Linked DNA regions of Homo sapiens. The protein of the gene in region 2 interacts with the protein of the main gene of each other region in a pairwise test. Each region holds a gene or a part of one and is shown on either strand. Other genes may lie near its edges. The genes, in order: DNAJB13, SEPTIN1 and AMOT.

Region 1 (7,497 bases), on a different chromosome or scaffold from region 2:
CAGCCGCAGGCCTGTTTATCTGCACAACAAGAGTGCTCCTGTGTGCCCTGCATCTCCTGCAGTTCCAGAGGAACATGAGACTCTTAGATGCTGTTGACTTTATTTTATTCCATTTTACAAATGGAAGGAAGACCCACCTCCCCCAAAGTCCCAGACCTTGTGAGAACAAGTCAGTCAGCCTCCTTCCACCCTCCACAGCCACAGCCACACCCACAGAGGAAATGTTACTGAACTGGGTGGAGCAGGCCCTGACTCCACAGAGGGTGGGTGGAGGCTGCAGGGCAAACATCTGGTCTCTGCCTGAGGATACTTTCCATTTGTGTTTTTTGTTGTTTTGAGACAGAGTCTCACTTGCTGTCACCCAGGCTGGAGTGCAGTGGTGCAATCTTGGCTCACTGCAACCTCTCCCAGGTTCAGGCGATTCTCCTGCCTCAGCCTCCCAAGTAGCTGGGATTACAGGCATACACCATCATACCTGGCTAATTTTTGTGTTTTTGGTAGAAACGGGGTTTTGCCATGTTGGCCAGGCTGGTCTCAAACTCCTGACCTCAAGTGATCCACCTACCTCAGCCTCCCAAAGTGCTGGGATTACAGGCATGAGCCACTGTGCCTGGCCAGGATATTTTCCATTTGGAGTCTCACCACCACAACCCCCCTCCACCTGCCCCTGCCCCAGCTAGGCATCCAAGGAGGCCGCAAGAAGCCAGGGCCTTGGCTGCACAGGGGTCTCCGCTTCTCTGTCCCTGTTCTTATCACCTGCACTCAGAGGCAGGTGGGCAGGGGTACTACAATTTCAAGGAGTGGAGACTGTGAGGTCCTGGAATCCCAAGGCATCTCCTGTAGGGCTGGGCCCTTAGAATTATGTCACTCAGACCCAGTTTGTAGGTGTCTGAAGAAACTGAGGCCTGACACAGGTGATGCAGGCAAGAACACCCAGAAAGTCCACTACTGAACTGGGACCGGGACCCAGTCCTCCTTCCCCTTGTGGACTCCCCCAGAGACCAGTGCTGGGGTCCTTGGGGAAGCCTGTTTGGCAGCTGTGGAGCTAGGCCCTGAGAACACGACCACCCTCCCTCTTCCCTCAGCCTCAAGCCGCTGAAGCCACTGCTGCTTCGCCGCCTCGTAAGCCCAATGGTCAGAGCTGGAGGCTAGACCCTTCAGTGCTTGGGTTGAGGGCCAGGGTGTTAGATTGGTTTTTGGAGAAGGAACGAGGGCCCAGGATTCTTCAGCTTCTTAGTTTTTGACAAATTGAGCTGAGGCCCCATAGTCCTCGGGAGGGACAGGGTTGAGTGCCATAAGTCGGCAAACCAGGGTAAAGGTGACAGGCAGCTCAGCCAGGCTGCAGGGGGTGGCATATACAGAGGACCTGGCCACTACTTTATGTACCTTCTTACACTAATTCTGTGAGGCAGGCTGTTTGTTAGCTCTGCTCTGGACGGGAAGAAGTAGGGGCAGTTTGGTAGGTGTGTGTCAAAGCTAAACAGGCTGGGTGGGCATGAGCAAGTCAGCTGGTTCATTCAGCAGCCTTAATAGACACGAGGCTACCCAACTTCACTGTGGTTCTGGGTGTGGCCTTAGGACAATGAGCTGGGAACAGTGGTAGGAACCACTGGAAAACATACCAGTGGGTCTCATTCATTCTGATCACAGGTAGATCACTTCTCTTTGGTTCCCAACCCTTTAATGCCTATTAAGTGGGCAGATGATAAGCCCTGCTTTGCCTAATTCAAGGTAACACTGAAGATCACTAAGGTAATAGGAATCTCCTAAGGGACTTTCAGGCCCAAGACCCAGGCTTCCTTCAAGATAAGGAGTAGGCTTTCCTGCTGCCCTACAGGAGACCTAGAGTTGAAGAATTTCACAGCCCTGCCTCTGCACTCCAATTCAGGGCTTGCCCTCAGAACAGGGCAGCTCTCACCATCCCACTCCACCTGAGTCCTGCCCCAGAGCATTTCATGCCTCACCATCTGGTTTCCATGAAAGGCCTGCAAGGTAGGGGCTGTAAGCTTTAAGAAACGGGTTCAGAGAGGTGAAGTGATTTGCCCAAAGGCACACAGCTGGCTAGTAGCACACTGGGGATCCAGAACAGGTGTGTCTGACTCCAAAGCCCACATGCTTTTAACTACTATGCTGAAATGCTTCCTGGAGCCCTGGTCCCAGAGTCTTCACCTCAAGGTCTTTGGGTAGCTGACTTCATGGTGATTTTTTTTTTAATTTTAAGATGGCGTCTCTTCTGTCGTGCAGGCTGGAGTGCAGTGGCAAGATCTCAGCTCACTGCAACCTCTGCCTCCTGGGTTCAAGTGATTCTCCTGCCTCAGCCTGCCAAGTAGCTGGGATTACAAGTGCATGCCACCATGCCCGGCTAATTTTTGTATTTTTAGTAGAGACAAAGTTTCACCATGTTGCCCAGGCTGGTCTTGAACTCCTGACCTTGTGATCCACCCGCCTCGGCCTCCCAAAGTGCTGGGATTACAGGCATGAGCCACCGCGCCCAGCCCATGGTGATTTTTTTAATGACAAAAGTGCTACTGAACCCCCGTTTTAAAAAAAAAACCTTAAGCTGATGTGATTTGAATGGTGGAGTCCCAAGCAATCTGGAGAACATGGGGCCTTTTCTGGCACCTCTGAAGGCATTCCATGGAATTGGCTACCTACTCCCCGTAAGCCTGGATCTATCCTCACCCAAGCTCAGACTCTAGAAGGGAACCTCCCTGGCATGGAAGGGGAGCATAACACACGTGTTGACTATGAGGAGGCAAGTGTGGTCTACGCAGGCCCAGTTGGACCTGGATGCTGGAACTCCAGGCCTTGAGGGCAGCAGTGCTGTTACCCCTTCCTGAATCTAAGCAGTGAGTTCACCAAGCACTTTCACATCAATGTTCTCTGTCCTCACAACATGCCCGTGAGGGGGGTTATGGGCTCTGCTTTACTGACAAGACAGGTGTGGTGACTGGTCCCAGGAGAAAGTGGCAGGGCTGGGGTCAGAACTCAGGTTTCCTGCCTCCCAGATCACCCTGCCCAGGACCCTATCACAGACCAGGGGATTGAGGCCAGAGAGGTAGAACCAAAGCTGTTTCCAGTGCACATGTGTTCTTTATGCTGCTTCTCTACGCAGGGCGAGTCTGTGGGAAGTGACCTTCAAGGTTTTTGGGGGTTTTTTTTGTTTTTTGTTTGAGACAGAGTCTTGCTCTGTCACCCAGGCTGGAGTGCAGTGGCGCAGTCTCGGCTCACTGCAACCTCCACCTCCTGGATTCAAGTGATTCGCCTGCCTCAGCCTGCCGAGTAGCTGGGATTACAGGCCCTCGCCACCATGCCCAGCTAATTTTTGTATTTTTAGTAGAAACGGGTTTTCACCATGTTGGCCAGGCTAGTCTTGAACTCCTGACCTCAGGTGATCCACCTGCCTCGGCCTCCCAAAGTGCTGGGATTACAAGCATAAGCCACCACACCCGGCCTTTCTAGTTTTTTTGAGATGGAATTTCACTTTCGCCCAGGCTGGAGTGCAGTGGTGCAATCTCAGCTCACTGTAACTCTGCCTCCCAGGTTCAAGCAATTCTCCTGCCTCAACCTTTGGAGTAGCTGGGATTACAGGTGCCCACCATCACACCTGGCTAATTTTTGTATTTAGTAGAGACGAGGTTTCACTATGTTGGCCATGCTGGTCTCGAACTCCTGACCTCAAGTGATCCGCCCACCTTGGCCTCCCAAAGTCCAGGCATGAGCCACCGCACCCAGCCACCTTCAAGGTTCTGATGACAGCTTTGCCACTGAGGCCTGAGTGACCTGCAATGAATGTTTTCTTTTGTGCTTTAGTTTTCCTGTCTCTAACGTGACCATATCATGCTCCAGAGATTGTCTCTTCTGTCATGAAAAGCCAGAGCAGAGCTAGAGACCCTCAGAGGCCACACAGCCCTGCCCCACTCTATCAAAGTGGAAGCACAGAGGATCTGAACCCTTACCTGCCCTTTCCCACAAAGCCAGGACAGGGACTCAGGCACTCAGCTCCTTAGGCCTCTTTCTTCCCTGTGCCCCACAAGAAGGGCTAATATGAAGCTCCTCTCCAATGTACTCTCGTGGGTGTAGCTGGAGGACAGGAAATAGATCTTTATTATGTCAGTTTAAGCCCTGCGCCATCCCACCCTTGTATCATATCTGTGCAGCAGGCTCCCCTGCACACCCTGAGGCTGTGGCGGGTAGGGGTGGGGTGAGGCCCGGCTAGCCTCCTCTCACCCCTGCTCCAGCCCACCACAGTCATGTCAGCAATGCCTGGCGCAGCATCTGCTTCTTCTGGGGTGTGAGGCGGGTGGGGAACTGGATGTCGAAGAAGATGAAGAGATCCCCTTTCTTAGTGGGGTCCTCCGGCAATGGCATCCCCTCCCCTGGCACCTTCTTGAAGTATTTGGGGCTGAAATAGGATGAAAGAAAGGAGCATAGAGGGCATCCCAGAGCAGCACCTCAGCAGGTCCCTGTCATATAACCCCTACTCACATAACCCCAGGAAGGGGACAGTCACTGCAGTCTTCACCTGGAGTGGTTCTTAGCCAGAACTGGTTGGGAAAGGAGCTCCCTGAAAACCTGTTTACACTGAGTCTCTGATGGAGGATTCCAGAAACTTTGTTTAAGACATGGGAAACGGGAAGTAAAGGTGAGCAAACCCTGGGGTGAGGGCGAGGGTGCTGGGCTGCCAGGCAAACCTCCTCACGGGCAGAGGGCCTTTCTTGGAAAAGGACTTAGGATATGCAACTCAGAACTCTAATGAGAAGTTTGCAGGGCATGGAGGCTACAGGGTTGCCCAACAATGGGGGCCTCTAGCCTCTGCAGTGGCTTTGTGTGGATTAGAAAAAGATGTTCCTTTTGCCAGGTGATTGCAGCCCACAGCTTGGCCAGTGTGGGTTCAGTTTTGGTCCTCTCTATCCCCTCAGCAGGGAACCCTTCTGCTGGGGGCAGCCTGTACAACTCTACTGGGCAGACCTGTCACACTACCACCTAAATCCCAGGCTAGCCCTTCTCTTGGCTACTGGGGCCCAAGGCAGATGGACTCACTGGATGATGTCATTGATGGGGATGTTGAGCAGACGGTCATCTAGGGTCCTCACCTCCACAGTGCAGCAGGTGAGAGCCTAGGGAGGGTCAGGGCCAAAGGTGGGGCTGAGGAGGGTCACCATGGCTCTCCTATTTAGAAGGCACCTTAGGAACCTGTCCAGTGCCAGACTGTGAGTTGGGCACAAGGGAGACGAGGCTGTTCAATAACTAATAGGTGAATGACCCATGCAATTTTCTGCACTGGCAGGAAAGATGGATGGATCTGGCAGGTAAGATGGATGTTGTATAAATGTAATGATGGAGACAGAATAAAAGCGTTTGTGGGAGCCAAGGAGAGGCCCCTAAACCATTCAGGAGTGGGGCAGGAAGTGGTAGCAGTGGTGGTAGCTATTGATGAGGACCCTATAGGGTCAGGTGAATAGACAGCATTCCAGGGAGAGGGCCCAGCAGAAATGAGAACGGAGGTGTGACAATGCGCCACACAGGCAGGGTGCTATGCGGCGAAGGGGCGGGAGTGCAGGGGAAGGAGTAAGCAGGGAGCAGATCGCAGAGGGCCTCCAGTGGCACAAAGATGTTTAGACAGGAGTGTGGCAGGGTCTGATGAGTGTGTGGCAGGATCCCTAAGGAGAAGAGCCTGGAGGAGATGAGAAGTGGGGAGGAAGGCCTGCTGCGCAGATCTGGTGTACAGATCCAGGCGGTGCAGATGAGCAGACGGGACCAAGTGGATGGTGATTTAGAGGGTGGAATCCACAGGGCTTAGTGACTGATGGCAGGTGGTTGTGGGAGGGGAGGCCAAGTCTAGGCCGGGGCAGGCAGGGCTCACTCTGATCTCCTCCCCGCTGCTCCTGCACTTTGCCCACTCACCTTGCCAAGAGGGATGGGGTTCACGAAGAAGAGGTTGTCATTCTCCCTGCGGAAGCGAGGGTGTAGCTTCTCCTTTACGATGAAAATGATGTCTGCTGGGATGATGTTGGGGCCCTGGGCAGGGGACGCCAAAAGGTGACAAGGACTAGTTGGCCGTGTGACCTTGGCCAAGTTCCTGCCTCTACTTGTCTCCATGTCTTCATCTGTACAATGGGGAGATGAGAGCAGGTTTTCTGGAAGGGCCTTTTCAGTTTGGCCCCCATAGCCCAGATGGATTAGAAGCCCGAGAAGCTTACCCAAATGAATCCCCCCAGAATTACTTCTGTACTGAGCATGCCCAAAATAGACACACTCAGCTGGAGGGGCGGAGAGGCTTCCTCAGACGGCAGGCAGGTGGAACACTAAGCTGGGCGTCAGGCAACTGCCCGTATGTCTCTGTCTTGCTAGTAACTCCAGGCATGACACCCCTGTCCCAAACTTCATTAAGTCACCAAAACTCTGCTGAGGTCTCTTCTGGGCGCTGGGGACAGAGGAATCAGACTGGCCCCTAACACTGACAGTGAATCCTCAGCACGCTCAAGACATGATAAAGGGAGGCCCAGAGGCTGGGGCTCAGAGGAGGCTGCCCAGAGCGGGGAACACTGGAGCTGGGTTTTGAAGCGTGTTTATTCGAAGTAGATGTTTTATTTGTATTTTGTCTGTTTGTTTTGTTTTTAGACAGGATCTCGCTCTGTTGCCCAGGCTGAAGTGCAGTGGCATGATCATACTTCACTGCAGCCTTGACCTCCTCGGCTCAAAAGATCCTCCTGCCTCAGTCTCCTGAGTATCTGGGACCACAGGCACACACTACCATGCCCAGCTAAATTTTTTATTTTTAGTAGAGACAAGGTCTCGCTATGTTGCCCAGACTGGTCTCAAACTTCTGAGCTCAAGTGATTCTCCTGCCTTGGCCTCCCAAAGTGCTGAGGCTATAAGTGTGAGCCACCAGGCCAGACCGGAGGTAGATGTTTCATAGGTGAGAAAGGGGGCAAAAAGTGCAGGCAAAGGAATGTGTCTTCCCTGGCTCTGAATGCCTCTTCTCAGGACTTAAGGATTCAGCACGCCTTGGACAATAAATTTATGTTTTTATTTAAATAGTATTTAATTTAAAATTATTATTAATAGGCCAGGCACGGTGGCTCACACCTTTAATCCCAGGCACTTTGGGAGGCCGAGGCAGGCGTATCACCTGAGGTCAGGATTTCGAGGCCAGTCTGGCCAACACGGAGAAACCCTATCTCTATAAAAATACAAAAATTAGCTGGGTGGCTGGGCGCAGTGGCTCACGCCTGTAATCCCAGCACTTTGGGAGGCCGAGACAGGTGGATCACCTGAGGTCAGGAGTTCAAGACCAGCCTGGCCAACATGGTGAAACCCCGTCTCTACTAAAAATACAAAAATTAGTCGGGTGTGGTGGTGCATGCCTGCAATCCCAGCTACTGGGGAAGCTGAGGCAGCAGAATAACTTGAACCCGGGAGGCGGAGTTTGCAGTGAGCTGAGATCGCACCACTGCCTTCCAGCCTGGGTAACAGAGCGAGACTCTGTCTCAA
Region 2 (11,680 bases):
TGGTGGGGACGAGTCCTCAGGGCGGGGTCATGGGTGAGGCGGGACCTTGGAGGCTCTGATACTGTCCGCCCCGGGTCTCACCTGCGGCTGGCTCGATCGCGAGCCCCAGGCCGGGCCAGGCTCTGTAGGCAGCGGGCCCGGTAGCCCTCGTAGAGCAGATCGTGCGTCACCTCTTTCAGGTCCTGCAGGTGTGTCTGCACCAGCATCCGTCGCAGGTTCAGGAAATCGCAGTGATGTGGGTTCTCCACTGGAGGGGGGGCGGCGCGGACCAGCGAACGTCAGGGAGTTTCGGGTCCAACCCACCCGTAAGGGTCGGGTCTACAGGAAAGTCCTGCTGCCACTCTAGCGGAGGGTCCGCGGTCTGCAGCCCAGCGACCCCCCTTTCCTCCTAGGATCCCCTGGGACCAAAGCCCACCCCAACTTCACATGTTGAGTGCGCCTGACCCAGAGGCCCCGGGCTCCCTGCTGGCCTTAGGACCCCTGCCTGGCCTCACTCACCCTCCACGGTCCCCCAGGAGTAGCGGCGTCCCCTCACCGGCCGGTTCCCGCCATCCCTCACCACCTCGCATGATCCCACGACTGCAAAAGGGATGCTTTCCTGGAGGGCAGGGGGCAGGGGTTCACCATTGGCTCACACGGCAGAAACTTTCTCTTTCCCAGCTTCAATCTCCACACCCGCCTCCTCTGCTTCCTGCCCCTTCCTCTTTTTTTTTTTTTTTTTTTTTTTTTTGAGACAGGGTCTCACTCCATTGCCCAGGCTGGAGTGTTCAAGTGATTCTCCTGCCTCAGCCTCCCGAGTAGCTGGAATTACAGGCGCCCACCATCACACCTGGCAAATTTGTGTATTTTTAGTAGAGGTGGGGTCTCGCCATGTTGCCCAGGCTGGTCTGGAACTCCTGACCTCAGGGGATCCTCCCGTCTCAGCCTCCCAAAGTGCTGGGATTACAGACGTGAGCCACCGTGCCCGGCCTGCCTTCCTTCTTTGTTTCCCACACCTTCATCTCTGCATCCTGCCTCTTGAAGTCTTCATCTTCATCAGAGTCACATTCGGGGAACTGGTAGATGTGGATCTCCTCTTCCTTCAACTGATCCCGGATCTCAGGGGAAACAGATATAGAGACAGTGTGAAACGGGCCACAATGACAGACATTTCATGACCAGAGACAGTGAGACACAGAGATACTGGGTGGTCAGAGACAGAGAGAAAGACATGAAAGACAGAGATGGGGAGAGATGGACATACAGGAAGACAAAAACAAAATCTCAGAGACATAGATGGTGAGAAACACAAGATTCTAAGATGGGGCAGACATTAAGAGACCAGGAGAAGCCTGGGCAATATAGCTAGATCCCATCTCTACAACAAATATACACATATATTTTGAAACAAGGTTTCACTCTATCACCCAGGCTGGAGTCCAGTGGCTCCATCTTGGTTCACTGCAGCCTCAACCTCTCAGGCTCAGGTGATCCTCCCATCTCAGCCTCCTGAGTAACTGGGACTACAAGTGCACACCACCACACCTGGCTGGTTTTTGTACTTTTTGTAGAGATGGGGTTTTACCATGTTGCCGTGGCTTGTCTTAAACTCTTCAGCTCAAGCAGTCCACTGACCTCAGCCTCCCAAAGTGCTGGGATTAACAGGTGTCTGCCACCAAGCCCAGCCAAAAAAATATTTTTTAAGTTAGCCAGGCATGGTGGTGTTCATCTATAGTCCCTGCTACTCAAGAGGCTGAGGCAGGAGGATCACTTGCGCCTACAAGTTCGAGGCTGCAGTGAGCTCTGATCTTGCCACTGTACTGCAGCCTGGGCCACAGAGTGAGACTCTATCTAAAAAAAAAAAGAGAGAGAAAGAGAGGCCGAGAGAGATATAAGCAGAAACAGTGGGAAAGGGCTCTGAAGACACGGGGTGGGGGCCAGAGGGAAGTCACTATGTTCTCATGTCTATGCTCCTGCCCTCAAATAGGCCTCAGCCAGGCATCTAGCCCGGGGGCTGCATATGTAGCCTATTTTGAGCCTTCAGAGACATGGCTATGCTGGCGGCTTACCACCCGCCTTCCTCAGAAGCTTCTCCTACAATCTAGCCTGATGCACCATGCTCCAGAAAGGCCACTTCAAGATCAAAGAAGTCTAAGCTGAAATCAGGTTTGGCTTCACATGGGGTCAAAGGTCAGAGGTCATCACTCACACCTTCTGCTTGAGGGCCTGGGTTTCCTGGGGCATCAGAGCATCCGCTTTGCCAATGACTGGGATGATGTTGACTTTCTCGTGTACTGCCCGGAGGAAGGCCACATCTAGGGGCCGGAGCCTGCACCCAGGGATTGGTCATTGCCCAGCCTCAGGGGGCAGAGACCCCCCAGCCCTCCCTAAATGCGCCAGCCCCCAGGATCCCCCCACCAGACCCCCGGCCGAAGGGTGAGATGAAGTAGAGGCAGCAGTGGACTCGGGAGTCCTGGATGTTCTTCCGGTTCAGGCCACTCTCATCCCTAAGGTACTGCTCAAATTGCTCCTCGATGAATTTCACCACCGGAAGCCAGCTGGGTGTGGGGAGAGGATGTGAGGTCAGAGATCAAAGGCCAGAGGGCAGGGGGCAAGGCTAGCCAGGACTGTGGGAGTAGAATGTCATTTCTTTGGCTCCCTCCAAAGACATTAAGGGGAACTGGTGGGGGCCTAGGTGAGTCATCAAGAAGCACAGGGACCCAGTGGCCCTCTGAAACAGACACCACCTTTTGAGATAGGGAGCCAGCACAAACCAGTCCTGTAACTCTCCAGGGAGTCGCCACTGTGAAAGGCTGAGCCTCTGTCCCCTTTCCTCTTCCTCACCAGTCAGAGCAGTCCACTGAGTCCCCAAAGCCAGGTGTGTCCACAAGGGTCAGCTTCACTTTCACACCCCCTTCCTCAATCTCTACGCCCCGGCGCTCAATGGCCAGGGTCTGTGTCAAGCGAGCTGTGGGATGGGGGAGAGGTCAGGGATCCGGGGAGGCTCTGAGGCAGAATTAATTTCCTTTGTCAATATCACAGTTGCCTGCACCCATTTCCCAGGGGAGGAAAGTCTCAGAAAAAAAGCAGTCAACTACCTGAGTCCCCAGATGGAAAAGACTAGGGTGTAACCTGGGGACAGGGGCTACTGCCTCAAGAGGGTGGGGAGGGTCTTACCACTGGCCTCTGGCACCTGGCGATCCTCATAGAGGTTGGTGAGGAAGAGGCTGTTGATGAGGGTGGATTTCCCTAGGCCTGACTCCCCTGTGGACAGAACAGGCCCAACTGGTCAGGGGAGGGGACAGCCAGGGCCTCCTAAGGACATCCCCTCCGCAGTTCCCTCTCCAAAACCCCCAGACCTGCCACCATTAGCGTGAAGTCAAACCCCTTCTTGACAGACTTGCGGTGCAGCTGGTTGGGGAGGGCAGCAAAACCCACGTACTCCTTGTCCTATGGATGGGGGTGGACAATATGAGGCTGCTGGCAATGGCAGGCAGGGTCCCCAGGATCACTTGAGTTCCTGGGCTAGGAAGAGTCAGTGGGGTCTGGGGACCCCAGGCATGGGGGCTGGGGGCCGAGATGCCCAGGTTTCTGGGTGTAAGGACTCACCATGACTCCGCCAGCCATCACTGCACCTGCCGTCTCTCCCCACTTCCTCTGGTGGGGCAGGAAGCTGAGTGCGGCTAACAAGGGGGCGGGCAGAAGAGGCAGCTGAGATGCTCAAACTGGCCCAGTCCCAGAGAGGTGGGGAAGGCCAAGGCCAAGAACACTTGGGGTTGCCACCTCCTGGACCCCTTTGCCCATCACCTGTCTACGTACCTTCAACCCTCCATCCTTCACACATCTGGATTCCAAGTCCCACTGTAGCTCCATCATCGTGGTGAGACATGGGGTATGTGCAGAGAGGAAGGAAGTGGCTCCCTTTGTTAGCAGGGGAGATGAAGGTTTTGATGAGCTGATTAGAAAACAGTTCCCAGGACGGGCAAGGTGGCTCTCGCCTGTAATCTCAGCACTTTGGGAGGCGGAGGAGGGAGGACAGCTTGAGCCAAGGAGTTCCAGACCAGCCTGGGCAACAGAGGGACGTGCCCCTCTACCATCTCTACAAAACATTAAAAAATTAGCCAGGCATGTTGGTACAATCCTGTAGTCCCAGCTACTGGGGAGGCTGAGGTGGGAGGATTGCATGAGCCCAGAAGATCAAGACTGCAGTGAGCTGTGATCACACCACTACACTCCAGCCTGAGCAACACAGCAAAACCCTGTTTCTTTTTCTTTCTTTCTTTCTTTTTTTGAGACGGAGTCTCGCTCTGTTGCCCAGGCTGGAGTGTAGTGGCGCCATCTCGGCTCACTGCAAGCTCCACCTCCCGGGTTCCCGCCATTCTCCTGCCTCAGCCTCCCGAGTAGCTGGGACTACAGGCACCTGCTACCGCGCCTGGCTAATTTTTTTGTGTTTTTAGTAGAGACGAGATTTCACCGTGTTAGCCAGGATGGTTTCGATCTCCTGACCTCGTGATCTGCCCGCCTCGGCCTCCCAAACTGCTGGGATTACGGGCGTGAGCCACCATGCCAGGCCAACGCTGTTTCAAAAAAAGAAAAAGAAAAAAGTGGACCAGAAGCCATGATGGGATTGGGAGTGGGTGAAGCCATACATTTTCCAGCTCAGACAATGGATTCATAAAAGGACTCCAGGTCTTTGGACACCACTGCCCGAGAGATTTTCCTTCAGAATCCTGGCCAAAGAACTCCACTGCTCAAAATCCTTCAGGAACTCCCCAGTAACTCAGAGTCAAGTCTGAATTCTGGCCTGACTGCCAAAGCCTCCCTCAGCTGGCCTCATCACCCCATCTCTCACTCTTCCAAACGTCCTTGGCTCTCTACCCACATTGAGCTTTTCCTTTTTCTGAATCAGTTAAACTCTTCCTCATCCTTCAAGTGTTTCTTTCCAAGGGCTCTGCCTCTATGCAATCTCTCCACCTACCCTAGGCAGGGTCATTGTCCCTCCTTCAGATTCCCAGCACCTGGCTGGCGTGGTGGCTCACACCTGTAATCCCAGCACTTTGGGAGGCCGAGGCGGGTGGATCACTTGAGGCCAGGAGTTCAAGACCAGCCTGGCCAACATGGCGAGACCCTGTCTAGCAAAAATACAAAAATTAGCCAGGCATGGTGGTGCGTACCTATAATTCCAGCTACTTGGGAATCTGAGGCAAGAGAATTGCTTGAGCCCAGGAGGTGGAGGTTGCAGTGAGCCGAGATTGCACCGCTACACTCCATCCTGGGCAACAGAGCAAGACCCTATCTCAAACAAACAAACAAACAAACAAATCTACCTCAGGACCGCTGCGGTGGCTCACACCTGTAATCCCAGCACTTTGGGAGGCTGAGTCGGGCAGATCACGAGGTCAAGAGATTGAGACCATCCTGGCCAACATGGTGAAACCCCATCTCTACTAAAAATACAAAAAATTAGCTGGGCATGGTGGCATTGCCTGTAGTCCCAGCTACTCAGGAGGCTAAAGCAGAATTGCTTGAACCCAGGAGGTGGAGGTTGCAGCGAGCCAAGATCGTGCCACTGCACTCCAGCCTGGTGACAGAGCAAGACTCCGTCTCAAAAAACAAAAAACAAACAAACAAAAATGCTACTTAATACCATCTAGGGACTGTTAAGAATCTGGAAAGGGGGGCTGGGTGCGGTGGCTCATGCCTGTAATTCCAGCATTTTGGGAGGACAGGGCAGTCGGATCACTTGAGGCCAGGAGTTCGAGACCAGCCTGGCCAACATGGTGAAACCCCCGTCTCTACTAAGAATACAAAAATTAGCCAGGCATGGTGGTGCACGCCTGTAATCACAGCTACTAGGGAGGCTGAGGCAGGAGAATTGCTAGAACCTGAGAGGCGTAGGTTGCAGTGAGCCAAGATCCTGCCACTGCACTCCAGCCTGGGCGACAGGGCAAGACTCCGTCTCAAAAAAATAAATAAGTAGGCCAGGCGCGGTGGCTCATGCCTGTAATCCCAGCACTTTGGGAGGCTGAGTCAGGCAGATCACCTGTGGTCAGGAGTTCGAGACCAGCCTGAGCAACATGGAGAAACCCTGACTCTACTAAAAATACAAAATTAGCAGGGCGTGATGGCGCATGCCTGTAATCCCAGCTACACGGGAGCTGAAGCAGGAGAATCACTTGAACCTGGGAGGTGAAGTTTGCGGTGAGCTGAGATTGTGCCATTGCACTCCAATCTGGGCAACAAGAGCAAAACTCTTTCTCAAATAATAATAATAATAATAATAATAATAATAATAATAATAATAATATAAATAAATAAATAAGCAAAGGGCAGGGATCATGTTACCTCTCAGCACTCCACCACCGGCCTTCCTCCTGCATCTCTCACCAGGTTGAGCATCTCTATGGTCTTAGTTAAAATTCTGAAATCAGCCGGGTGTGGTGGTTCACGCCTGTAATCCCAGGACTTGGGGAGGCCAAGGCAGGCAGATCAGAAGGTCAGGAGATCGAGACCATCCTGGCCAACATGGTGAAACCCCGTCTCTACTAAAAATACAAAAATTAGTTGGATGTGGTGGCGCGTGCCTGTAATCCCAGCTACTTGGGAGGCTGAGGCACAAGAATCACTTGAACCCAGGAGGCGCAGGTTGCAGTGAGCCAAGATCACACCACTGCACTCCAGCCTGGCGACAGAGCAAGACTCTGTCTCAAAAAAAAGGAAAAAAAACTTTCTGAACTCCTCCCACTCTCACTCCCCACAAGTGTTTCCAGTGAGTTTCCAATTCCCACCTATCCTTCAGAAAAATTGGTCCCCTTTTCTTCACACTCTCCATGCCATTAACCTGCTTTGGGTTCAGACCCTGATCAACTCTTCTCTGAGTTATTCAACAGCCTTTGACAGAATAACATGTTTAAAGGAAAAAAAAAAATGTTGGGCGTGGTGGTTCACGCCTGTAATCCCAGTGCTTTGGGAGGCTGAGGTGGGAGGATTGCTTGAGGCTAGGAGTTCAAGACCAGTCTGGTCAACATAGCAAGACCCGATCTGTATTAAAAAAATAAATAAAAAAGAGGATAACATGTAGGCCAGGCAGTGGCTCATGTCTGTAATCTCAGCACTTTGGGAGGCCGAGGTGGGAGGATCACTTGAGGCCAGGAGTTTGAGACCAGCCTGAGCAACACAGTGAGATCCTGTCTTTACAAATTAAAAAAAAAAAATTAGCTGGGCATCGTGGTGCACAATTGTTGCCCCAGCTAGTTGGGAGGTTGAGGCAGGAGGATCACTTGAGCCCAGGAATTTGAGGCTGCAATGAGTCATTGTGGTGTCACTACACTTTAGCATGGGTGACAGAGCGAGACCCTGTCTCAAAAAAAATACAAAATTTAGGATGATATATATTTATCTGTTTATTGTACAACCAACACATGTTTTCATAGAAAAATTATAAAATGCAATTGAAATATAAACATTTAAATGTGGGCCGGGAGTGGTGGCTCATGCCTGTAATCCCAGCACTTTGGGAGGCTGAGGCAGGAGGATGGCTTAAGCTCAGGAATTCGAGACCAGCCTGGGGAACATGGTGAAACCCCATGTCTACAAAAAATACAAAAATTAGCTGGGCATGGTGGCATGCACCTGTGGTCCCAGCTACTCAGAAGGCTGAGGTGGGAGGATCGTCCAGTCTGTGTGACAGAGCCAGACCCTACCTCGAAAAAAATATATTTTTTAATGTGATATCACCATTTTTTTTTTCTTGAGATGGAGTTTCGCCCTTGTAGTTTCGCTCTTGTTGTCCAAGCTGGAGTGCAATGGTGTGATCTCGGCTCACTGCAACCTCTGCCTCCCGGGTTCAAGTGATTTTCCTGCCTCAGCCTCCCGAGTAGCTAGGATTACAGGCATGTGCCACCACGCCCAGGTAATTTTGTATTTTTAGTAGAGATGGGGTTTCACCATGTTGGTCAGGCTGGTCTTGAACTTCCGGCATCCCAAAGTGCTGGGATTACAGGTATGAGCCACTGCACCTGGCCTTTTTTTTTTTTTTTTTTTTTGAGACAGAGTCTTGCTCTGTCACTCAGGCCGGAGTGCAGTGGCACGATCTTGGCTCACTGCAAGCTCTGCCTCCAGGGTTCACGCCATTCTCCTGCCTCAGCCTCCCGAATAGCTGGGACTACAGGTGCCCACCACCATGCCTGGCTAATTTTTTTGTATTTTTAGTAGAGACAGGGTTTCACCGTGTTAGCCAGGATGGTCTCGATCTCCTGACCTTGTGATCCGCCCGCCTTGGCCTCCCAAAGTGCTGGGATTACAGGCGTGAGCCACCGCGCCCGGCCTTTTTTTTTTTTTTTTAAAGACAGTGTTTCGGCGGGGCGCCATGGCTCACTCCTGTAATCCCAGCACTTTGGGAGGCCTAGGTGGGCGGTTCACCTGATGTCGGGAGTTCAAGGCCAGCCTGGCCAACATGTTGAAATCCTGTCTCTACTAAAAATACAAAAATTAGCCAGGCATGGTGGCGCATGCCTGTAATCCCAGATATTCGGGAGGCTGAGGCAGGAGAATCACTTGAACCCGGGAGGCAGAGGTTGCAGTGAGTGGAGATCGCACCATCGCACTCCAGCCTGGGGGACAAGAGTGAGACTTCCTCTCCAAAACAAAACAAAACCAAAAAAAGACAGAGTTTTCCTCGTCACCCAGGCTGGAGTACAATGGCGCGATCTCGGCTCACTGCAACCTCTGCCTCCTGGGTTCAAGTGATTCTCCTGCCTCAGCCTCCCGACTAGCTGTGATTACAGATGCCTGCCATCATACCTGACTAATTTTTGTATTTTTAGTAGAGACAGGGTTTCACCATGTTGTCCAGGCTGATCTTGAACTTCTGACCTCAGGTGCTCTGCCCACCTTGGCCTCCCAATCACTATCTTTCTATAACCCAATTTTAGTATTTATCCTTCTCGTACGCCTATATATATGTATACACACTGTTTATATTTATAAAAATAGGGTCACATTATAACTTTGGAAACATGCTTTTGTTGCTTCATGTGTTCTCTACATCTTTTTTTTTTTCTTTTTTGGAGAGGGAGTTTTTCTCTTGTTGCCCAGGCTAGAGTGCAATGGCGCGATCTCGGCTCACCACAACCTCCGCCTCCTGAGTTCAAGCGATTCTCCTACCTCAGCCTCCCAAGTAGCTGGGATTGATTACAGGCATGCACCACCACGCTTGGCTAATTTTTTTTGTATTTTTAGTAGAGATGGGGTTTCTCAGTGTTGGTCAGGCTGGTCTCGAATTCCCAATCTCAGGTGATCCACCCACCTCAGCCTCCCAAAGTGCTAGGATTACAGGTGTGAGCCACCACGCCAGGCCTGTTCTCTACATCTTTCTATGATACATGCACATGTACATTATCTGTTTTTGTTTTAGTTTTTGTGTTTGTTTTAGCTGGGACTACAGGTGTTCACCACCATACCCAGTTAAGCTTTTTGATTTTTAGTAAAGACAAGATCTTGCTATGTTGCCCTGGCTGGTCTTGAACTCCTGAACTCACACAATCCTCCCTTCTTGGTCTCCCAAAGTCCTGGGATTACAGCCACTGCACCCGGCCCAGGAAGTTATATATTTTAAGCATTTGTACATATTAATGCCAGGCCAGGTGCAGTGGCAATAGGGCGAGACCTTGTCTCAAAAAAAACAACCACAGTCCAGGCGCGGTGGCTCACGCCTGTAATCCCAGCACTTTGGGAGATCAACGTGGGTGGATCACCTAAGGTCAGGAGTTCAAGACCAGCCTGGCCAACATGGCGACACCCCATCTCTACTAAAAAAAAAATACAAAAATTAGCCGGGCGTGGTGCCGCACACCAGTAATCTCAGCTACTCAGGAGGCTGAGGCAGGAGAATTGCTTGAACTCAGGATGCAGAGGTTGCAGTGAGCCGAGACTGCGCCACTGCACTCCAGCCTGGGCGACGGAGTAAGACTCTATCTCAAAAGAAAATTAAAAATAAAAATAAATAAAAATAAAAACAAAAACAACAACAAAAAGAAAACAACCCTGCAAAAAAGGCTCTTGTGGCCGGGTGTGGTGGCTCACGCCTGTAATCCCAGCACTTTGGGAAGCTGAGGCAGGCGGATCATGAGATCAGGAGTTCGAGACTAGCCTGGCCAACAAAGTGAAACTCTGTCTCTACTAAAAATACAAAAATTGGCTGGGCACAGTGGCTCATGCCTGTAATTCCAGCACTTTGGGAGGCTGAGGCGGGCGGATCACGAGGTCAGGAGATCGAGATCATCCTGGCTGACACGGTGAAACCCCTCTCTACTAAGAATACAAAAAATTAGCTGGGCGTGGTAGTGGGCCCTGTAGTCCCAGCTACTCGGGAGGCTGAGGCAGGAGAATGGCGTGAACCCGGGAGGTGTAGCTTGCAGTGAGCCGAGATTGTGCTACTGCACTCCAGCCTAGGCAACAGAGCGAGACTCCATCTCAAAAAAAAAAAAAAAATAATAATAATACAAAAATTAGCTGGGCATGGTGGTGCGCGCCTGTAATCCCAGCTACTTGGGAGGCTGAGGCAGAAGAATTGCTTGAACCTGGGAGGCAGAGGTTGTGGTGAGCCGAGATCGTGCCACTGCACTCCAGCCTGGGCAACAGAGTGAGACTCTGTCTCAAAAAAAAAAAAAAAAAGGCTCTTGCTTGGTCATTGTGTTAAATGTAGAGTTTATATGAATTAACAGTGACACCATAGTCCATTTCCATGCTTATTAATTCCAACTAATTATGGCGAATCATTCATATGATATTTGGGGCTTGTTTGCTTTGACAAAGGAAGGCAGTACCTTGAGTTTCATATAGGGCAGTGTGTGGTGGACAGCTCTCTTCCCATTTAGTAATTATTTAGTCATTTGGATTAGTTTTTTTTTTTTTTTTTTTTTTTTTTTTTTTTTTTTTAGAAACAGGGTCTTGTTCTGTTGCCCAGGCTGGAATGTAGTAGTGCGATCATAGGTTATTGCAGTCTTGAACACCTGGGCTCACTTCTGCCTCCCAAGTAGCTGGGACTATAGCTTTGCAACACCATCCCTGGCTAATTCTTTTTTCTTTTTAGAGATGGGGTCACTATGTTGGCCAGGCTGGTCCCAAACTCCTGACCTCAAATGATTCTCCTGCCTTGGCCTCCCAAAGCACTAGGATTCCAGGTGTAAGCCACTATGCCCAGCCCGTATTAGTTCTTCTTCATCTTGCCATCATGTCTTCACAGTTACCTCTTCCCCACCCCTTGCATCCCTTGAGGGACTTCTATATCTTTAGACATTAATTCAAGTTCAGATCTAATAACTATAGGATTTGTCCTCTCAAAGTCAGAGTTAGGCAGCTCTGCAAATGAATATGGCAGGCATGCTGACCATTTATACCCTCTTCTATTTCCCAGCACAAATGCCCAGTACCTGATGGATACCCAGGAAATGTTTGTGGAACAAATGAATAAACTTACATTCTTTTTTATTTTTATTTATTTATTTTTTTTGAGTCGGAGTCTCGCTCTGTCGCCCAGGATGGAGTGCAGTGGTGCGATCTGGGCTCACTGCAACATCCCCTCCCGGGTTCACGTGATTCTCCTGCCTCAGCCTCCCGAGTAGCTGGGGCTACAGGCACCTGCCACCACGCCCAGCTAATTTTTTGTATTTTTAGTAGAGACGGGTTTTTTTTTTTTTTT
Region 3 (11,741 bases), on a different chromosome or scaffold from region 2:
GGAGAGGGGGTGTCAACTGTTAGCCTAATCAGCCAGACTGGGTTTCTAGTGTATGGATATAATTAATTTATTTCACCAAAGCGATGGGGATAGGGATATAGTTAAAATTTGCGGGTGAAAATACAAAATCAGGGAAAAGCCGGGAAGAAACAATTCTCAGAGCACTCCAACAACCCTCATCCAGATTTAGGAAAACTAAGGGACAGGGAAGCCATTTTCCTATATAAAAATCCTCTGTTTGCCAGGCGCAGTGGCTCACGCCTATAATCCCAGCACTTTGGGAGACCAAGGCGGGCGGATCACCTGAGGTCGGGAGTTCGAGACCAGCCTGGCCAACATGGAGAAACCCCGTCTCTACTAAAAATACAAAATTAGCCAGGCGTGGTGACACATGCCTGTAATCCCAGCTACTCAGGAGGCTGAGGCAGGAGAACTGCTTGAACCCAGGAGGCGGAAGTTGCAGTGAGTGGAGATCGTGCCATTGCACTGCAGGCTAGGTAACAAGAGCGAGACTCCGTCTCAAAAAAAAAAAAAAAGAAAGAAAGAAAAAAAATCATCTGCTGATAATAAGCCCCTGTCTCCTTGAGGCCCCCAGATTTGGTGTCTGTTTACAAATACTCAGCTTCATTCAGGCCTCTGAAATTTTCACTCCTGGTGTTTCCTAAGGACAGAGTTGCTGGACAATACAAGGCATCCTCCTGTCCCTCCCCCACCTTCACCCTCACCTCTCTGAACAGTTCACATTGTAGGGAGACCAAACCACAATAGCTCCACAATGACAAAAGCTGCAAAGAAGCGGCCAAAGGCATAACCCTATTCACCAGCAGCCCCTGGAAGCCAAGAGCTAAGGTTCCTCGCTTGGGGTACTCCAGAGGTAAAGTCCCAATGGGGGTGGGCAGAGAAGAATGTGAACTGGAGATACACTCCTTTTTCTATTTCCTCAGCCTAGGGCTGTCACCTGTCACCCAGCTGTGGTGTTAAGCCCCTCCTGCCCCCCACATACAACAGAGAAAGAGAGCAGATGTTGAATTTGAGCTGCAGGGAGGGACCAAATCAAAGGGTGGGGTGGAGGGATTGTTGAAAGAGAGTTACTATGAGAACTCCCACTAGGAAAAAGTATTCTGAGCCTTTTCCAGAACAAGGCAGGACTGCTCAAACTTTAGCTGGTGAGATTTTTCTAGGAACTACATTTATTTTTATATTTAAGATTCAAATTCATATTTGGGAAAATGTGACCAAGACAATGAGCCTTAAGGTGCCGTCAGATCCTTTACCTATAAAGGCATCACCAGTATTCTTATCAAGAAGTATCACTGCCTTTTGGAATTCTAAAAGAATTAATCACGTTTTCTTTAGGGCTATAGCGTCTGGAAAAACTGCATAAATTTTTTTCTCCTTGTGTAAATGTAAGACGTTACTTCTCCTAGGTAGACAGGTAGAAGGCTTTTTCCAAAGTTTGACTCATATCTAACCTTCAGATATAAAAATCCTGAAGACCTGCCACAAGTAATGCTGGGATTCACAACTGGAGACTTTAATGTGGATATTAAACAAGTCTCACAAATAAAGACTTAGAGACCCTAATATCCCAAAACGGAAGCCTCACCTTCTGCAGTCTTGCCACCTTCTCATAGCATCCTTCCAACTCTTGCCTCAAGTTCCGGTTCTCGTCTGAGAGGATCTCAACCATCTGCTGGGCTCTGGAAACAATGGCAAAAGGGTCTGCTGGCACTGGCTGATAAGAAGCAGAGGATGGCTGAGCCCGAGGCATAGCTGAATAGGCTTCTCCTGGCTGCTGCTGTGGCTGCTGCTGCTGCTGTTGTTGGTGGTGATGGTGATGATGGTGCTGCTGCTGCTGTTGCTGCTGCTGCTGACTCAGGCCAGGTTGGGAGAGACGGTAATGATCCCCCTGGTGAGCCTGATTAGGAAGGAAATGCTGCTGCGGCCTAGGCAGGTGAGCTGAATGGTCTCCCTGGTTTGGGACCAAGGGGTGTCGGGCAGGAGACAATCTAGTGGATGGTGGAGATTGTAGCAAGGGCAAGGACCCCCCAGAGGTCAGAGAAGAAGTAGGGCTGTGAGGCTGCGAGTTCCTGGCTGACAATGGCAATGAGATGTCCTGCGCTGGCCTGTAAAACATGAAGGGCAGGTGCGGGTTAATTTCTCTCCTAAGGCACTGGGGGAGAAGGGCACACAAAAGTGAGATGAGGAGGCTTCTGATGCCCCCAGGACACCTGCAAAATGAAGAGCAGGCAGGGTCTGACTATGGGGAAGTCTAACCCTGCCTGCTCTATCTCTGCAAAGACCACAGCCCTTTTCCAGCCTGACCTTCTGTGCCTCTGCCTGACAAACAGAGGTGTGATCCCATGAGGGTCAGAACCAGACAACTTCCATGGTCACTTTGTGAAAATCGTAGTGATACACACCTGTACACCCGTTTGCTCAAGTCTAAACATTTCAAACGATTCTTCTACAAGGTAATTTTCATCTCATTATTTTAAATTAAACCTTTTCTGACATTATACACGTGGTCCAGCACACATAAAGATCCTAGTTTAGAAACTATGTTCCATTTGCCAGGATGGAAACAACAAACAGCCATAAAAACCACCCCCATCTTGCTATCTGCAACTCCCTTTAGTAATTCATACATTCACAAAAAAAAAGAAAAAAAACTATTCAAGGATTGGTAGATACTTATATTAGAGACACTAAATGATTATTGTTGCTTCCAGTTGTTAACGATTTAATGATTCCCATTAGCAGTAACCATAAAAAGACTTGAAGAGGGTTACAAGCAATGCTAACATACTATTTTTGATGTAATGAATCGCAAAATGTAAGAACTGGAAAGGCCTTAAAAGAAAATTATTTAGTTCAACTCTATCACTGGACAGATGGGGAATGAGGTCCAGAAAGGGGAAGTCATCTGCCAAATATTAGAGTGGTGGTGCCAAGATAGAATCCTTCTTTCCCAATTCCCATTTTCTGGCTTTTTCTACTGCCATAATGCATTGATTTCTGTGCACTGATACTTAGATTTCCAACCTATTGCTCATAGAAAGTTCCAGAAAGAGACCTTTGGTACATTGTTTAATGTGGCTCTCCCATTTTTGTACCTAATTACCAGGTACAAAATGCTAACACCTAAGTATAAATAATTCATACCTAATGACTATTAGCCATTAAGGGAAACAATTAGTATGTGGATGGATCACTTCCACCATCACCACTACCAGGAATAGTATCTGTCAGTGTGCACTGAAGACAAAAAGCTTGTTCATGCCCTAGCTCATGCCCAATTAACCTCATATGCTCCCATGTCCTGTGGACACTTGTTCTACAGTTGATATTTCTCAATCCAGGGAAGACAGATGGCTAAGTGCATGGGATCTGGATCCCAACAGAGGGAGTCTGGAGACCTCTTCTACTGCTCACGAGCTGTGTAACTTGGTGCAAGTTACTTAATCTGCATGAGCCCATTTTATTCTTGAGGTCACAAATAAATTGCAAAAATACTGGGGTCTTCTCATTTTTGGCGGAATAGGAATTACAGTCACTTCTCTACCTCCCAGTGAGATAAGCTGACCTTGTTAGCTTGTTACTTAAAGGATATCCATTTAATCTTTGCAATAAATTGCATAAAATTCATGGTGGAACTGGGACAAATCACCAGGAGCAATTAACTTTTAACTGGCATTCCAGATGCTAAAGCACATTCCTCAGACACACACTCCAGTTACCATTACTGTTCATGTATCCATCTTTACAAGAGATCTTAACTATAAGGGCTTTTTACAGCTACAAAATCATTCCAAACACTTTCTCATGGATACCCAATAACCTACATCTTCCCCAAGAGTCCTCAAACCTGTACAAACCCTGGATTCTGTCGCTCAGGCCCATCTATGCCTCTGGTGTACCCACATTCTTCCAATCACATACATCTGTCATTATAAATAATTGCTGAATATTGAAGAGGGCATGCGAACTATTTGGGCAAAGAAGAATTGACATGGTACTCATAAGTACAACTGGAAAGTTGCTGCCATACATAATATTTTTCCCCAGAGCTCAAAGCACTCATTCAATCAAAAGCCTGGGAGTTATTTATACATTTATTTGGTGAAGAGCTCCTATTTTCCATTCTATGGATCTTCAGTTTCCTCACAGGTAAAAGACTAAGTGCTCTTTTTTCTCTTTGAATGAGAGCTATTACAATTTCTACATGCCTACAGAGTTAAAATATAATGTCCTGAGATTTGTTGGGGCTTGTGTGTCTCTTTTCTGCTTTGTGGGCAGAAAAGAGGGGCTTAAGTTTCATGTTCTCCAATGCAGCTCTCAAATTTTAAGGGAAAAAAATCACTATATTAACCTTCATTTTTGTTCCCAGGATTTGCAGTCCAAGGCCTGGGAGGTATTCTCTTTTAAAGACTGAACGCCCAGTTCTGAAATGGGCTTTCTCTCCACAGCTCCCCTGGGCCTCATCAAGCAACCCAGGCCTCTCTCTCAAACAAACTCAGCCACTGGCCTCCCTCCTGCCTGGAGACTGAAAGGCCCCTGCATTCCCTGGACAACAGCACATGGCCTTCCAGGGACCTTGGGAAGGAGGAGACCATGAGGTCTCCAGAAGGAGGTCTCTGGGGTCAGATAAGCTGAGGATGAAGATAAGCAGAGACAAGGCAGCTGCCCCTCAATTCCCCAGGCTGGAAAAGGAAGCAGATCTCAGTGCACCGTGATGTTGGGAAAACCAAGGCAGCCCGTCACTGGCTGGTTTGCAAACCAGCAATGGCTTGGGCAGTCACAAAGGGAGAGAAAGCCCTTCAGTGAAGAACTCAATCTGGGCTCCAGCATCCACCCACCAGGGGAAAGCAGGACGGAATGAACACTGGGGTGAAGCTCCCCGTGAGAAAAAGAGATTAAGGAATGACGGGGTAAGGGAGAGTTGGAGGGGGCGGATGTCAGAGGAAGCCAAAATACACCCCAAGTTAAATAATAACAGTAAAAGTAATGACAGTAATAATAAAGGTGGCAGCCATGTGAGCAGCACACTCTCCAGGTCCTTCCAGCACACAGCAGCCTGAATCGCTCCCCACTGACACGTTAACCAGGAACAACAAGCCGCCTGCAGACAACAGAATCACATGATTCCATGCAAGCCCTGACCTGCCTCCTGCCACTTCCGTCCCCTCATCCTGCTCCTTCCTAAGGCTACCTGGGCCACTGGGGCTCTGCAGAAAAGGGGACATAGCATACATGCAGGACAAAGGCCAGTGACTAAAATCAGGATCCTCCCCAAAGCTGGGAAGTGGGGTAGGGTGGGGGGTACACTCCTCCCAGAGACAGTAGTAAGGACTCAAAGGGAAAGTAAAAGCCACTCTACCCAGCTGACACAGCACCTTCCACCCTGCCACCTCGATGACTGGGAGCCCTCACCCTCCCCAGCCACACACACATGCACACATGTGCATGCACACACACACTCCACACTCCTGGCACACACATGTGCAATCCTGCACACACACTCTCACCAGAGCAGGTGCCACCCAATAGCCTGGAACTTGATTGATCCTCACCACAGAAACTGCCTTTCCCAGGCTCTGCAATGGTGAATCGGTGAATCTGTGAATCCTGGAGCAGGCTGCAAATTCCTGATGGTTTCTCTTGCACAACCAGCTCTGCTCTGAACTACAGAGTTAGGTCACCCTTAGATTCCACTAAACAAGGATTTCAAGAAACCTCAGATCTGGGCATGATTTCAACAATTGAAAGGAGGTGGCTGCTTTATAAACAGAAATGATTTAATTTTTAAAAGCAGTTGATAAATGTATAAACCCAGGATGCAGAAAAGGTTCAGCACTTAGAAAGACAAAGATTCTGAAATTTTAAAATTATTCAGATAGCCTTTGCCTTGTTTCTCATCTGGGGTTCTGGGCATTCAAGGTATTTATTTTTTAAGGGGAGGAGGGCATAAGAAAGATGAAGTAATAAAAGGATTGTTTATAATTTTGTTCATTTTAACAGCAAATCTCCAGCAGTTCACTGCACCTCGAAAAGCAAGCAAATGTTTTCTTAACAGCAATTTGTTCAAAGAGTTTGCTTTGCATCCTGACTTGTAATTTGTGGATTAAGGGCTCAGAATGTAGTCTTCTAATTGGTTGCTGCTAGCAGCAGTTACTTGGAAAGGTACTCACAAACTGTATAGCTAGTTGGTTAAAGGAAATAAAGGAGGGAAAATGTGTCACCACCTTAAAGCAGTACACTTCTGGAAAGCAGTTCAACTACCTCCTTTTGCCAGTAATTTGTCAATAGGTGCCACTCCCTCATGTAGGGCCCTGCAACAATTTTACGGCCAGTATTTGCCTGATGCAGACCCAAATTTCATATGGAGCATCCTCCCACTAGGGCCATTTTAGGTTTGCTTATTCATCAAGCATTATCAAGCACTCTGCTCCTTTCCCATAGAGAAAAACCTGTTACAGCAAAACTGTGTATTAAAATGCTGCTCAACAAGGGTAGATCATCATGGGCTCTGTTGCTTTTGAGGACAGAAAGAAAGAGAAATCCACAGATAACTTAGGTGGGAGGATAAAAAATATGTATCTTCCTGTAAAATACATGCAGCTAAATTTCTCCGGTGGTTTAATCAGGATGGGAAGAAAAGGAAAAAAAAAGAAAACCTCTTTGGGCTCCTCATTATTTATTTAGGCAGATCAAAGGGCAGATAATTTTCCATCTAGCTTCAAACACTGTGGGAGTCATTTCAGATCACAAACAATACTGGTGAATGAGTTCTGAAAATAGCTTTCCTGGGAAGGCGGGCTGTGTGCTGAGTGGGGCTGTGGCTTCTGCTCCACACCCCAGCCAACACACTCCCCTCCCACAAGGCAACAGACATCAGCCCATCAACAGACTCTTCCATACTGATGGGAAAAGCAAAATAAAAACCCCCAGCTTCATTGATATTTTGCTGGCTTGAATGGGTTTCCACTAAGTGAGGCAGTCTTGAACAGACCAACCCCTCCCTGGGTCTTCTGTTTCATTGGTCAGATGGGAATCTGGTTCTTGATCTCTTTTAAACCTGAGTAGCCTTGTTGGTTACCCCATTTCCTGTTCCAAGACACTGATCAGAACATAGGCTCCTGCCCTTTGAAAGCTGCACAGAGGAGGTTGAAAAGGGTTAGGAAATCAACCTGGGTTAAGAGGGAAAAAAAAAAAAAAATCCTAAACTGGCAAAGTTAGAGGTGGAGTCCAAAGTGAATTGCCTCTGGCTACAAAAACAGGACCTGCAGGGGAAAAAAAAGAAATACCAGGAAATGCTAGGTGCCTTCTCTCACTTTCACCCTACTCCACCCCATGACTGCCTTCTCTCCTGAGTCACTCAATGAACTTCAAGCCAGAAGGTTTTTTCCAAAATGAGCAAGTAGGGTACAGGAGACAAAGAGGTAGACATCAAAGGACATCACAGACCTAGTCTGTGAGCCGCATATAAATGAAGGCCAGCCTAGGACCAAGCACTTCAAACCTGATGGTCACCCATCATTACTCATGGCCATGAGGCAGGATACCACACTTAAATGCCACCATCGGTCCCCATGGTTTAAACCTTTTCTCCTGCCCTATATGTGGAAATACTACTGATCAGAGACATGGCCCAAATACTAACAACAGGAACAATGAACAGAATCATAGAATCATAAGGTCTAGTGAATATAGCAGTGGGACAATGGACCTCTGAATAATTAAGAAGTATATATAGGAACAACTAAATATATAAGACAGAAATGGTAATATTTTTCCTTCTGTATTTTAGCATCTGACCAAAATTTCTATATGATGTGATGGGAATTTAACTCAGAGGTTTAAAAATGTGACAGGCAACTAATAAATTCTCTACAAAAAAAAGATACAACAGTCCAGATTTCATAAACTGCAAGCATAAGGCAAGTAACATTCTGAACCTACATACATACATAGCTCCCCCACCATAACATCTGGGTGTTTGTTTAGTCCAAAAGAATAATGGTAATTCTATGGAAAAATGGTAACTGACAAGAAATACACAGATTTGTTTGCAAAAATAAATGATGAAAGCTTCATGGAGGGGAATATGTGCAAGTGATAGGATGTTCCAGACTAATTAAAGTGCAAGGTAATTTGCTTCTACCTCTCAAGGAGGGCTTATGAGAAACACAGACCCCTTCAACATCCTAGGAGAGAGGACAGCAAATAGCTGCTGAAAACAAGACTTTTGCTCCTGTTCGTCCACTAGGCAGTTGAGGCCATGCTCAACCTACAAAGCTAAGGGATTGTTAATACAGTGCTAATTATGGCTAAAGAGGATACAAATTCGGGTTGGCAGGCAATTCACGAAGCCAGAGGCCTGTCATGCATTGCAGAGTTTGTTATATCAAACACCTGCCCGTTCCTTCCCTAAGATTCCCAACACACAGCAGAAGCTGGTTGGGGATGAGGTCAGGAAATGACAGAAACAGAACTCTCTTACCTGGCTGCTCCATACTCAGGGGGATGCTGATACCTCATCAGTTGCCCCTCTGTTCTCCCTGGCTGGTTCAGGCGATGCTCACTATAGAAGTGCCCTGGCTCTTGGGGCTTGCACACTACAGATTGGGGTGGCATGCCCTTGAAGGGATATTCTGGTGGGGGGCCTCGGTGTTCCATGCCCTTCAGGCTATGCTGGTTAGGAAGTGGCCCTTGGGCCTTGTAGAATTCACTGGAACTTGTGGGATTCTTGTAGAGGTCATTGGGTTGTGGTGGGGAGAGGGGAGCACTGGTAACAGGTGGATGGGCCTTAACTCCACTGGTGGCCAGTGACATCTGCATTAGTCGTTCACTCAAGGAACGGACATGCCCTTGCTTAAGGTCTCTGAGTCCCTCATCTTGGTGCATCTTTCCAGGATTGAGCCGCTGAACTGATGGGCGTCCCTCAGTCCTCATCTTCTGGTTGGTGACTCCAGTGACATAGAAGGCAGCTCCAACACTGGCATGCTGTTGGCCCCGAAAGTACTGGGACTGGACCTTGGCTTCTTCATAGGTCGGGAGTTCTTCATTATTTTGCATTCGAGGAGACAGCTGCTTCTCCATGATGAGGTTTTCTGACTGGATTTCCTGCCCCTGGGGTTCTTGTCGAGCAGCATGAGCCACAAGCTGTTGGTGGTGGTCTTGGGGACTCAACACATCACTCTGAGGGCCCGGGTTCCCACTGCCACTGGGGAAAGGAGGGCCATTCCCTGTGGCTTGCTGGTGTATGGCAAGCAGGCTGCGATTCTCACTAGGATTGCCATAGCGAAGCTGCTCTTGTAGCAAACGCTGCAATACCGTGGTCCCTCCACTTGGCTGTTCTTCAGAATTTCTCATCTCTATTGCTGGTGGTGCCTTGTGAAGAGAGAGAGAAATTGGGCACCTGGGCTGCCCTTGACCTGGGAAGGGGAAACAGGAAGCTTAACACCCAGTTGATGGATAAATCAGTCCTCTAAAGGGAAAGAAAATGGATATTGGAGGGTGAGGATTCGATTGCAGAAACAAAGTAGAGAATTGACTCTAAAATTAATAGATTGTTGGGGATTCCAGGCCCTAGCACTGATATGATGAAGAACATGGAGGCATAAGAGCTCTAGGTTTTCTCTTTCACTTTTAGCATGAGTTAAATATTCAATCTGGACTTAACTCCTAAGAATGCTTGAGAAACCTGGAACAGTCAACTAGGGTAATCAAAGGGGGTAACTTTTCAAGGTCCATATTCACAGGCTTCATCTCTCTGTATTCTATTTAAAGCAAAAACCCAAATCTTATGGCTGTGGAGGTGGGGGCAGGACAGTGGGGAAAGTTACCCCATAACAGGATTTGTAAAGCAGCTCAGCATATGAAGGCAGCTACAAAATGCAAAATAAAGACTCAAATAAATAAAAGGTGAAGAGAGCTTGGCTTGCACCAGACAGTAATGATCCCTGCCTCGATGCAAATCTTTTTCTCTGATCTCATAAGGCTCTGAAACATCTTTTTAAAAAATCATTTTCATAGTCTCCATTTTGGATGCTCCTTGGCTTAATAAGAGAAGGACTTGGAATACTTATTACTGACAAAGTTGCCTTTCAGCTCTCCAGAAACAGTCATTTAGATTTGCTGTTATTGTTATTGGGTAGAAGCTTAAAGGGGAAGCCTCTTTTATTTGAAGTGTGCCTCTGACAAAATTTAGAAATTGAAAAATATAAAGATCATCCTTCTGGAAAGGGTATACGATTAGCATATCCCCTCCCTCACCATCAATTCTTCTGAACAGGTACTATGGGTTGACTGAAACTGATTTTAGTAACACAATTTAATATTCAAATTCTAATCATACTATTGGTTTACAGGGTATACAACTGATTCCTCTTTTCTTGATGTCTATTTTCTCAACAAAAAATGGCTGGTAGGTGATTTCTCTCTCTCAGCACTGTATAGTACACACTAATTCATTAGAGATTCAAAAATTCTTTGGGCAGAATCTGTCAATGTTAAGTATTGGAATTAAGTAATAATGTTCAATAATGAAACTTTCACTCTAAGGATCTTCAGTAATTGGTGGAGAATGAACATAATGTCACACGAAAAGTCACAATAAAGGTCAGTTTAACCAGCATCAGGTTTCTAGATGGCAACTCTGGATCCCTGGCTCCCAGGCTCTTATTTCTATGATATTAAGTGGCCTGCAATCTCTCTGGAAACACGAACCCCTTTCTTTTGGTCATGCAGAGAGAGAGTGACCCAGAATGTACATATAGTATATGAAGAAAGTTCATCTTCTCTCTTTCTTCACGTCTTGTTGGTTACTGCTACCTGGCTTCCAACTGTTGCGCTGGGCAGTCTGACAACACGAAGGGACCCTCCAAAGTCCCTCTCATCATATTCTCTTGGGAAGTGCACACCAGTGGGTTAAGCAACCCAGTCCCTTTTCCATTCCTCCCAATGTGCCTCCAGGACTCCTGTACTTGAACTGTCAAATTGGGATATTCTGATAGGCTGACAAGCATAATATATAAATCCTTTTTGGTGCCCAAAACTAGAGAGATGACTACCAAATTACTTTTCCCTGCTCACAAACTGGAAACAGGAACAAGTATGGTGTTAAAGCAAAAGTGATTTACAAACCCTCCCTGTAAGGCAGGGAAATGCAGACACTGAGCTGCCCTGGACCCTGAAAAGTATACCACCCCCTCCCACGTCACACCCACCCCACCCAGCATGCACACAGGCACACATGCATACACACATGCACGAGCGTGTGCACACACACACACACACACACAGAAATATTCCATACCTATTTCTGCTTTCTTTTAGGCTTAAAGCCTTGATCAGGATAGGGAATTCTTGCTTATGAGCAGCTCCAGAAACCGCAACGGCAGATTCCCTCTCCCCTAACACTCAGGTTCAGGGTAAGCGCCGCCAAGAGTCCAACCACTGGTCACTCTGAAATGTTCAGGAGAGGGAGGGAGGGAGAAATAAAAACGTCGTTTCTATTTTGCCACCAATGGCCAGCAGTTAATCAAACCAGTTCTTCCAAGAGAATGACTTGTCCTCCTATGGTGCTTGGCTTTTAAATGAGTAGCAGAGTCCATCTCCACTAGGGCAGAAAAGAAACCTCAGTGTCCAGTAGCTGTGTCCGGAAGGCCAGGCCAGTCTCCAGTGATGGAAATGTTCAGGTCTGAGACTTGCTCTGTTCTGACCTCACAGCCCTAGAA

Evidence for each region.
Region 1: the proteins of SEPTIN1 (region 2) and DNAJB13 interact in binary tests that used the Homo sapiens proteins (3 or more experiments, as listed by UniProt).
Region 3: the proteins of SEPTIN1 (region 2) and AMOT interact in binary tests that used the Homo sapiens proteins (3 or more experiments, as listed by UniProt).

What each region holds. Positions count from the first base shown.
Region 1 is NC_000011.10:73,966,869-73,974,365, reverse strand, and holds the end of DNAJB13 (dnaJ homolog subfamily B member 13), read right to left. Parts: intron 6,428-7,497; coding exon of another isoform or gene 6,395-6,427; exon of another isoform or gene 6,022-6,394; coding exon 5,908-6,021; intron 5,121-5,907; coding exon 5,044-5,120; intron 4,406-5,043; coding exon 4,252-4,405; 3' UTR 4,085-4,251; downstream 1-4,084. UniProt on the Homo sapiens protein: Functions as part of axonemal radial spoke complexes that play an important part in the motility of sperm and cilia.
Region 2 is NC_000016.10:30,378,937-30,390,616, forward strand, and holds the start of SEPTIN1 (septin-1), read right to left. Parts: upstream 3,626-11,680; 5' UTR 3,607-3,625; coding exon 3,589-3,606; intron 3,430-3,588; coding exon 3,339-3,429; intron 3,244-3,338; coding exon 3,157-3,243; intron 2,948-3,156; coding exon 2,824-2,947; intron 2,538-2,823; coding exon 2,403-2,537; intron 2,309-2,402; coding exon 2,191-2,308; intron 1,098-2,190; coding exon 996-1,097; intron 599-995; coding exon 499-598; intron 248-498; coding exon 82-247; intron 1-81. UniProt on the Homo sapiens protein: Filament-forming cytoskeletal GTPase. May play a role in cytokinesis.
Region 3 is NC_000023.11:112,813,752-112,825,492, forward strand, and holds part of AMOT (angiomotin), read right to left. Parts: intron 11,470-11,741; 5' UTR 11,321-11,469; intron 9,438-11,320; 5' UTR 9,376-9,437; coding exon 8,504-9,375; intron 5,688-8,503; exon of another isoform or gene 5,574-5,687; intron 2,127-5,573; coding exon 1,607-2,126; intron 1-1,606.